Linked DNA regions of Homo sapiens. The protein of the gene in region 3 purifies or fractionates together with the protein of the main gene of each other region. This does not show direct contact. Each region holds a gene or a part of one and is shown on either strand. Other genes may lie near its edges.

What was found. The genes of interacting proteins can lie anywhere in the genome.
Region 1: the proteins of MTHFD1L (region 3) and TRAPPC6B purify together in Homo sapiens (affinity purification with mass spectrometry; one large-scale study listed by BioGRID and IntAct). This does not show direct contact.
Region 2: the proteins of MTHFD1L (region 3) and XPNPEP1 fractionate together in Homo sapiens (co-fractionation; one large-scale study listed by BioGRID). This does not show direct contact.

What each region holds. Positions count from the first base shown.
Region 1 is NC_000014.9:39,147,314-39,150,323, forward strand, and holds the end of TRAPPC6B (trafficking protein particle complex subunit 6B), read right to left. Parts: 3' UTR 501-3,010; downstream 1-500. UniProt on the Homo sapiens protein: Component of a transport protein particle (TRAPP) complex that may function in specific stages of inter-organelle traffic.
Region 2 is NC_000010.11:109,913,512-109,917,011, forward strand, and holds part of XPNPEP1 (xaa-Pro aminopeptidase 1), read right to left. Parts: intron 1,589-3,500; coding exon 1,500-1,588; intron 1-1,499. UniProt on the Homo sapiens protein: Metalloaminopeptidase that catalyzes the removal of a penultimate prolyl residue from the N-termini of peptides, such as Arg-Pro-Pro. Contributes to the degradation of bradykinin.
Region 3 is NC_000006.12:150,872,202-150,875,701, reverse strand, and holds part of MTHFD1L (monofunctional C1-tetrahydrofolate synthase, mitochondrial isoform 2 precursor), read right to left. Parts: intron 1-3,500. UniProt on the Homo sapiens protein: May provide the missing metabolic reaction required to link the mitochondria and the cytoplasm in the mammalian model of one-carbon folate metabolism complementing thus the enzymatic activities of MTHFD2.

The sequences.
Region 1 (3,010 bases), on a different chromosome or scaffold from region 3:
TTAAGTTGATTTCTTTTTTTTTTTGGAGACAGAGTCTCACTGTGTCGCCCAGGCTGGAGCGCAGTGGCTCCATCTTGGCTCACTGCAACCTCCGACTCCCGGGTTCAAGCAATTCTCCTGCCTCAGCCTCCCAAGTAGCTGGGACTACAGGCGCCCACCACCACACCCAGCTAATTTTTGTATTTTTTTCAGTAGAGACAGGGTTTCACTGTTTGGCCAGGCTGGTCTTGAACTCCTGACCTCATGATCTGCCCCACCTCGGCCTCCCAAAGTGCTGGGATTACAGGCTTGAGCCACCACACCCGGCCTTAAGTTGATTTCTATGTATGGCATTAAGGCAACAATCCAATTTCATTCTTTTGTATGTGGATGTCCAGTTTTCCCAACACTATTTGTTGAAGAGATTTTACTACATTTCTTTGTTTTATAGTTTTCCTTTATGATTTCCTACATTTGTGTGTTGGAAAGGCCTTCTCCACCACAAAATCACGAAAGTATTATCACATTTTCTTTAGTACTTTATTGTTTTACAAGTGAACCTTTAAGTTTCTCCCCACCTACTCCCGCAGAAAAAGGCATATTCAATTGTCCCATACTAATTTTTGAATAACCTAACTCTCCCTTTGTTTCTACTAAGAGAGGTTTCTTTTTGGCTACAAGTAACAATATACATATACCCAAAGCAAATGGAACAATATAAAGAATATCTCACATAACAAAAAGTCCAAAGGTAAAGCAGTTCCTGGATTGGTTAATTCAGAAGCACAATTCAGGTGCTTTCTATCTACATCCCACTATTCTCAGTGTGATAGCTTTCATCTCCATACTTGTCCTTTCATGGCCATCAGAAGGCTGTTGCAGATTAGCTTCAAACATCCATATCACATATCTTCACTGAGAAGCAGAAGAGGGATGCTGGCAAATCCCTAACTTGTATCAATTGTTAAGAGCAACAGAAAATTTCTTATTCAAAGCCTTCAGACTTCCTTTGTCTCGTTAGCCTAGATTCCATCAAATGATCAAGTAAGCCAATTACCATGATTGGCACAGAATCTAATCAACACTCACCCTCTCTAGGCTAGGGAAGCACCCTATTCTATAGCACAAGGCAGCCATACAGAGTTTTAGGCCAAAAAAAAAGAAAAAAAAAATGGGGCTTTGTCAGCAAGGAAGGGAGAACGAAATGGCTGATGGGTAGGCATATGAATGTCTAACAAACCAACTTATTTGAACCCAGCTTTTTCACACACACAATTCTCACACCTGTTTTATTTTGAAGTTCTCTATTGTGTTCTATTTTGATCTACTTCTGTGTCATTAGCTATTCCTGGGTCATTATGACTTTTAATAAACTTTATACATGTATATTTGGTAGGAACTTTCCTAAATTTTTTCAAAATTAAAATTTTTTCCCCAAAACATGTGAGAATTAGGATTGCAGTCATGCATTGCTTAGCAAAGGGGATACATTCTGAGAAATGCATCATCATTAGGAGATTTTAAAATTGTACAATCACAGAGTGTACTTACACAAACCTAGATGGTATGATCTACTATACACCTAAGCTATGGCCTATTGCTCCTAGGCTACAAACCTGTACAGCATATTATTGTAGTGAATACTGTAGGACACTGTAACACAATGGTAAGTACTTGCATATCTAAACATAAAGAAGGTACAGTAAAAATACAGTATTGTAATCTTATGGAACCACTGCCATATATGAGGTCTGTCACTGACTGAAACATCATTATAGGGCACATAACTAGAATTTAATAAATCAAGTTAAACAAATTATCTTTGTAATACTGTACCCTTCCATGAAAGGAAAATGGTATGCTTCTAACTTGAGTTTTCTTTAATGTCCTAAAGTACATTTTTATAGTTTTTATTTTGTGTTTTTAATATAATGTTTGGTATAGTCAATCTTCTTAATCTGCCATTTCTATGGCAGAGTACCCAGTGAAACATCTTGTTTGGTGTGTCAGTCACCCCCTGCTGCAGAGTTCCCTGTCACACAAATACATGCAAAAGGGTAATAAATAAATGGGAAACAAAGTATAGTTTTAGTAATCAACATGCAAGATTCTAACAAAAGCTGGAGATAACTGCTTATGCCAGATAATTTAAGTAAGAGAAAGTAAGTAGAAGAGGTGGTAAGAAAGATATATCAGATGAGCACTGACCCCAAACCACTAAGATGATATGGTCCAAAGAATGTCAGAATGACTAATTCAATTATCCAACTCTGCTCAGCTGGAAGAGGAAAGAAGGGAATAAAGATGTTAGATCCTTTACCAGGACTTCCATGCACGGGGAGAGAAGTTGAAAGTCAAAACTGTAACAGGAATAAATACAAAAATTCTTTCCAAACATACCTAATATTCTTTGGCCCTAGAGTCACTGAATTCACATTTAAACTAATCTATATTTCATTTTGATTACATTAATGGAGCTCTGAAGGAATGAAACCTATTAAAGAAAAATTAAATTTATAAACAATTTAGGCAGTCATATATGTATTTATATATACACACATACAATGTATATATGAAATCCTTATACAGGTGTAAACATTCTTAATAAATTATAAGCAATAAAATAAAAAAAATTTAGTATGTTTGCTTTTTAAAATAAAACAAATTCATACTTTATCAAAATTTGTTCATTCTTCTCACAAATAATTCTGTTGGTACATAATTTTCTCTCATGCTAATTCAACAAACCCTGAGCTTTGTTTCTCCATCTATGGCTAAATACATATCACTCTAACCAAATAAAAAGGTTTAAAATAAGGGCCCTGCATCTTGGTGTCTGGTTATTTGAAATCCGGTTTTCATTTTGAATAGTTTTGGTTAAGTGTATGTCATGGCAGAATGTCCCTTCATCTCCTTTGATCTGTGTTAAATTGATAAAAATACATGCTTACTCCTGTACAAACATCGAACAATGTAATTAAATCATCACTACTTGAAATACTTTTACATGAATAATTTATCTCTTTACACT
Region 2 (3,500 bases), on a different chromosome or scaffold from region 3:
GCTAAGGGCTTTACATACATTAGTGGCTAATTCTCACAACAATCCTCCAAGGGAGGTTTCACTATTCTCATTTTACACATAAAGGAACAGGAGTTAAAAGGAGTTAAGTACTTGCCCAAAGTCAGCTGGTTCATCAGGAACCGGGACTCAAGGTCTATGCAATTCCCAAGTCCATGCTCTATTACACCATATTAGCTGGGGGACATAATAGAGCCTTAAAGTGTTCTAAGACCAACAGAAGCAAAACAAGTGAGCTCCAGTTTCCAGCTGGGATCTACAACCTCAGGCAACTGAAGCTACCTAACCTCTATTTCCTCATACATTACAAAAAGAAAAAGAAGTTATCTTCCAACTCTAAGTTTAATGATTCCATCACTTTTTTCCTTTCTTTACTTTCTCTTTTTCCTCCTTCCTCTGCTACCTCCTAATATGGTCCAAAATGTGTTGGATACATCTATATTTTTTAAAGAAAAAGGATCTAAAATTGCATGCAATTATAGCACTGATCTTCCAAACAGAGATTAGACGGGCATGGTTTCTTATGTACTTCAAGAGATCAATTTTTCAGTCAGCTAAAAAAAAAAAAAACACATGGTTCTCCTTAGTAGTCGTTAGAGCAGTACTGGCTTACTGGGATAGAAATACAGTAATACACCACTTTTCAGAATTCAGGTTTCTGGCAACCCATCAGACAATTAACCAGTTCTGGGGAGAAGGGACAGCCAAGAAATATTTCCCAAAAAGACTTTCCTAAATGCACACTCAATTTATAAAGGACAATAATATATTACAAGCTTTTCTCATTTTGCAATCTTATGATCAAAATTGAAAGCTAATTTCTAAGATAATGAAGGACTATATTAGAGAAATAGAGAACATTTTCCATAATAACCTATCTCCTTCTCCACCACCACCACTCTGACAAAAATGGAAAACGAAAAAAACAAACAACAAAAAAAAAGTTGTAATTCTCTAACTTACTACCTTAAAAAAAAATGGTAATGGCCAGGCGCAGTGGCTCATGCCTGTAATCCCAGCACTTTGGGAGGCCAAGGCGGGCAGATCACCTGAGGTCGGGAGTTCAAGACCAGCCTGGCCAACATGGAGAAACCCCATCTCTACTAAAAATACAAAATTAGCTGGGCGTGGTGTCGGGCGCCTGTAATCCCAGCTACTCCGGAGGCTGAGGCAGGAGAATCGCTTGAACCCGGGAGACGGAGGTTGCAGTGAGCCGAGATCACGCCATTGCACTCCAGGCTGGGTGACCAAGGGCGAGACTCCGTCTCAAAAAAAAAAAAAAAAAATGGTAAATATATAGAAACAGTAACCAACCACTTAGGAAGCCAAAAAATAAAATGGTTTTTAACTTCCAGATACTAACCCCCAGTCATGATCTGTTACTAATTCCTTACCCTCTTCTTCTCACCCAACCTGGGGTTGGGGTGGAGATCTAAAATCCTTTACAGATGTTCCATCTAATTTCCAGACAAAATTATTACCTGTTTCCACACCTGTGTCTCCTGAGTGTGTCACCTCGTTAGGTTCAATTATTCTTAAATTTCTCAGTTGAAAATCCTGGTGATTCACCCTTAAGGAGAGAAAGAACAGGAAGTTGCAGACTTTGACCACAATAAACGTGGCAAGGCTCAGTTAGAGGAGGCATCGCTTAACTTAGCAGTTCTCTAACATGAGTCAGAAGAACTTTCACCCCCATTATCAGTGGCAGAATAAATAAAAGTTTGATGTAAAACTTGCAGGTGTAAAACATCCCCATGGCAGGTTAACCTTCTCAGTTGCAGCTTCTAGTTCATAAATTCTCACACCTCCTATTTAACTAGACTAAGAAGACTTATTTTCAATGTTTTTTCCTTACACAAGTTCTATTTGGTTCTTTTTCACATCTGCCCGTTCTTTCTTTATGGTGTCCTATTCTTGCACTCTGGTTTCTATGCCTTCTCTTTGTGCCTTCATTACTGTAGGCCCTTATTTTATAATTTCTCCCATACTTTCAAATAGATCTTGGGAGACTAACCCTCATGTTTGCTAGGTCTGCTGCCTCTCCCTCTTGGTGGTTCATTCCTTCTGCGTTTTGTGATCTTTTATTAAGAGCTTATCTTCAATAGAGGCTATTTATCTATGAGAATGTGATGGGTCCTGGTTTGTACAAGCAGTTCTGTTATTGTTTGCTTCTAAGACTTTCACATTAATTTATTAGCTAGAAGATTTACACACAAACTTCTTGTTCCCATATGGGGATAGTCTAATGCCCTGGACACCAGGCATGAAGGTCTATATCTGCATCTGGTAACTTTCCCAGGCTCAGGTTACTAGCATACCACTCAGGCGTTAGGTTCCCTCTACATTTTTGGCACTTGAGGATTTCTCTTTCTTTCAAGTTCATTCAGTCAACAAATATTTATTGAAAAATCTTCCATAATCCAGGCCCTATTCTGGACACAACAGTGAACAAAACAGACAAGATCTCTGACTTTAACAAATTAAGATGGGGCAAGGCAGGGGGATGGGCAGAAGACAGGGAAGAGAAGGCAACAGACACAAAACAAGTACACAATACGTCAAGTAATAAGAACGTGTTTTGTGAAAAAAAGTAAAGCACAGCAAGGGGAAGAAAGCATCAAGGAGGTAAGGGGAAGGATTATTTCATATGGGGTAGCCAGGGACAGCCTCTATTATAACAGACAACATTTTAACACAGACCTAAAAAGAGTGAGGAAGCAAGCCATGTGAACGGCTAGGGGAACAATGTTCCAGGACAACAGCAAGTGCAAAGGCCATGAGGCAGGAGTATGTCTAGTTTACCTGAGGAAAAGCAAGAAGGTCAGCGCAGTGTGATTGTATCAGGGGATGGGGAGGTAAGTGGTTCAGAGACAACATCATTGAGGCACCAGGGGGCCTACTGTGGGGCCATAGAAAAGGTTTTGAATTTTACTCAGCTATGAACTCAATTAAGTTATAATTTAACCGCATTTTTACATGTTGGTAAAGACAGAGAGGGACACATTAGCTCAGTCTACCACACGGTAAGAACCAGATAACCAGGCAGCTTTACCAATGACTCTAGGCCTGCTTTCATATGGCTGTGACTTTAGTTTTACTGGACAGAATGGGATGTTCTTAACGAGAGTAAACATATTATTCTTTCATAAAAAAGTAAGACACCCCAATATGTCTTCTAAAATATAAATACAAATATCCTCAACAAAATACCAGCAAACGGAATCTAGAACAATATAAAAAGGATCATCATCGCCAAGTGGGTCTTATCCCAGGAATACAAGGTTGGCTCAATATATGAAAAATCAATTATTATAACAGGCCATATCAATAGAATAAAGAACAAAATCTACATGGTCTTCTCAACAAACGCAGAAAAAGCACGACAAAATCCAATGCCCCTTCAAGTTAAAAGTACTCAGCAAACTAGAAGAAAAATTCCTCAACCTGACAAAAGTTATTACAAAACCTACAGCTAACATCAT
Region 3 (3,500 bases):
AAGCAAATAAAGTGGGAAGAGGGATGTGAAGACAGGGGATTAGGGGGGTGAAGACAGGGGGCTCACTGTTGGACAAGAAGTGTCGAGACAGGATAAATTCCAGGTCCTGGAATTTAAAGAAGGAATTAGGTAAGGAAGGAAGGGGAGGAAAGTTCCAGAAACACTGGAGACCCACTTTGATAACACTATCAAAGCCTCCTAGAGAGAGAGACAGAGAGCTTCTCAGTCCTCTGAGAATCCACAACATAGTCTGCACCTGTACCTCCTAAATGCCCAGCAGCAGCCACCTTCACCTCCCACCTCTGAGGGAGGTGCCAGCCTGGGGTGAGCAGGCCTAGGTAAAAGTGGTAGAAGGCCTGGCATGGTGGCATGCACCTGTAGTCCCAGCACTTTGAGAGGCCAAGGCGGTAGGACTGCTTGAGACCAGGAGTTTGAGACCAGCCTGGGTAACATAACGAGATCCCATCTCTATAAACAATTTAGCTGGGCGTGATGGCACGTGACTGTAGTCCCAGATACTTGGGAGGCTGAAGCTGGAGGACCGCTTGAGCCCATGAGTTTGAGGCTGTAGTAAGCTATGACTGCACCACTGCACTCCAGCCTGGGTGGCAGAGCAAGACTCAATTTCTTTTTAAAAAAAGAAAAAAAAAAAAAGTCCAGGAGCGGTGGCTCACGCCTGTAATCCCAGCACTTTGGGAAGCTGAGGCGGGTGGATCACAAGGTCAGGAGTTCAAGACCACCGTGGCCAATATGGTGAAACCCCGTCTCTACCAGAAATACAAAAATTAGCTGGGTGTGGTGGCAGGCGCCTATAATCTGAGCTACTCGGGAGAATCTCTTGAACCTGGGAGGCAGAGGTTGCAGTGAGCCGAGATTGTGCCACCGCACTCCAGCCTGGGCAACACAGCAAGACTCCGTCTCAAAAAAAAAAAAAAGTGTTAGGAGCTCAGCTCTTTATGGAACCTTCTGGGATGAGTGACTGCAGAGGCTACCTTCGCCACCACCCTATGATATGTTCTCAGCAGCACATGAGCACTGGGAGCTGGCTTTTCCCCCTCTCACAATAGACCAAAGGCGCAGCCACAGGAGCCCCCAGGCTTCAGTGCTAAGACCACCTTTACATTTTGTTTTCAGTCTCCGACAGGGTCTTGCACTGCACCTAACAAAAATGCGGGGTGAAGAAGTTCCAGCCAATGCCATCAACGGTACACTGCCAAGAGCAGAAAGGCATCGGGAAGCTTTCCCCAGTTTTCAGAGAGACACAGCTGACAAATGGAACCAGAGGCACTGCAGTTCCCAGGCGGGGCTTTAGGGGAGAGAGCTGCTCAGATTCACAACCAGGACCAGTCTTTCTACTGCCAGCTGGGCCGGAACAGATGGACTGGGTGCAGGCAACTGTCTATAACCTGGGAACATTTCAGTTAGTTTTGTTTGGAAACACTTGGGATAAAGCTACTTCATTCCCAGGGAATTAATTGTATTATTGTGCTGAATAAATGTGACCATATGGGAAAGTTTACAAATCACCTTATAAATAAGCACTAAAATCCATCCATCCAATAATGGGTGACTGAGGCCCATATACCGCACTCTTTCCAGCCTGTCGTGACTGTTAATTTGGCTATGCTGGGTTCTTATTTTTGTCTGGGTCCAGGAAAGCACCGGAGTGTGGGACCCAAGCGGTTCATGGTATAAGGATCACTGGAGAGTTTGGTAAAAGTAAAGGTTCCAGGCCAGGTGCAGTGGCTCACACCTATAATCCCAGTACTTCGGGAGGCCAAGGTGAAATGGATCACTTGAGGTCAGGAGTTTGAGACCATCCTGGCCAACATGGTGAAACCCCATCTCTAGTAAAAATACAAAAATTAGCCAGGCATGGTGGTGCACACCTGTAATCCCAGAGCTACTCAGGAGGCTGAGGCAGGAGAATCACTTGAACCCAGGAGGCAGAGGCTGCAGTGAGCCAAAATCATGCCACTGCACTCCAGCTGGGTGACAGAGCGAGACTCTGTCTCAAAAAAAATAACAGTTCCAGCCCTAGAAAGTCTGATTCAACGTGTCTCAGTGGAGCCCAGAAATGTGCATTTTTAACAGAGTCCAGGTAATTCTGAGACACTAAGTGGAAATACGGCCCAGGATTGGTACTGGGCATTTCATTTACTAGCGTGGACAAGTCTCTAAGAGTCTCAGATTCCTCATCTGTAAAACAGGTATACTACAGTGGCTCTTTCCCCTTTTTCTTATAAATGTACGTTTGTTTTTTTCTGTGCCCCAAAGCTACCCTTAAACACTAAAAACATTCTTACTAACAGCAATAATTTTCTCAGAAACATTCATAGTCTTGATCCATTCATAGTTGATGAAAGGAACACTTCTTTTTATTTTTTTGAGACGGAGTCTCACTTTGTTTCCAGGCTGGAGGGCAGTGGCACGATCTCGGCTCACTGCAACCTCCATCTCCCAGGTTCAAGCGATTCTCCTGCCTCAGTCTCCTGAGTAGCTGGGACTACTGGTGCATGCCACCACGTCCCACTAATTTTTGTATTTTTAGTAGAGACAGGATTTCACCAAGTTGGCCAGGGTGGTCTCGATCTCTTGACCTCGTGATCCGCCCACCTAGGCCTCCCAAAGTGCTGGAATTACAGGGGTGAGCCACCTCGCCGGGCTGAAAGGAACACTTCTATAGGTAAGTCGGCAATCGTCAAAAAGTAATTAGACTTTTAAAATAGTTGGGGATGGGGGCTGGGCGCAGTGGCTCATGCCTGTAATCCCAGCACTTTGGGAGGCTGAGGTGAGAGGATCACTTGAGCTCAGGAGTTCAAGGCCAGCCTGGGCAAGATAGCAAGACCTGGTCTCTACCAAAAAAAAAAAAAAAGTTGGGGGGTGGATGTGGATAGAAAAAAAAATACAGGCATACATCATTTTTTGTGCTTTGCTTTACTGCAATTTACAGATACTGTGTTTTTCTACAAATTGAAAGTTTGTGGCAACCTGTGTTTTAAGTCTATGGGAGTCATTTTTCCAATGGCATCTGCTCAATTTGTGTCACATTTTGATAATTCTTACAATATTTCAAACTTTTTCATTTTTAGTATGTTTGTTCTGGTGATGTGTGATTGACGATCTTTGATGTTACTGTTGTAATTGTGTTGGCCAAACCGTGGCCATGATGGTTCATGATGGTGTGTGTTCTCACTGCTTCACTGGACTGGCTGTTCCCCCTTCTCTCTCCCTCTCCTCTGGCTTCCCTATTCCCTGAGAAACAACAATATTGAAATTAGGACAATTAGTAACTACAGTGGCCTCTAAGTGTTCAAGTGAAGAGTTGCAGGTCTCTCACTTTAAATAAAAACCGAGAAATAATTAAACTTAGTGAGGAGGGTGTATTGAAAGCCAAGATAGGTCAAAAGCTAGGCCTCTTGAGCCAAACAGTTAGCCAAGCTGTGAATGCAAAGGAAAAGCTATTGAAGAAATTTAAAAGTGCTACTCCCGTGGATACA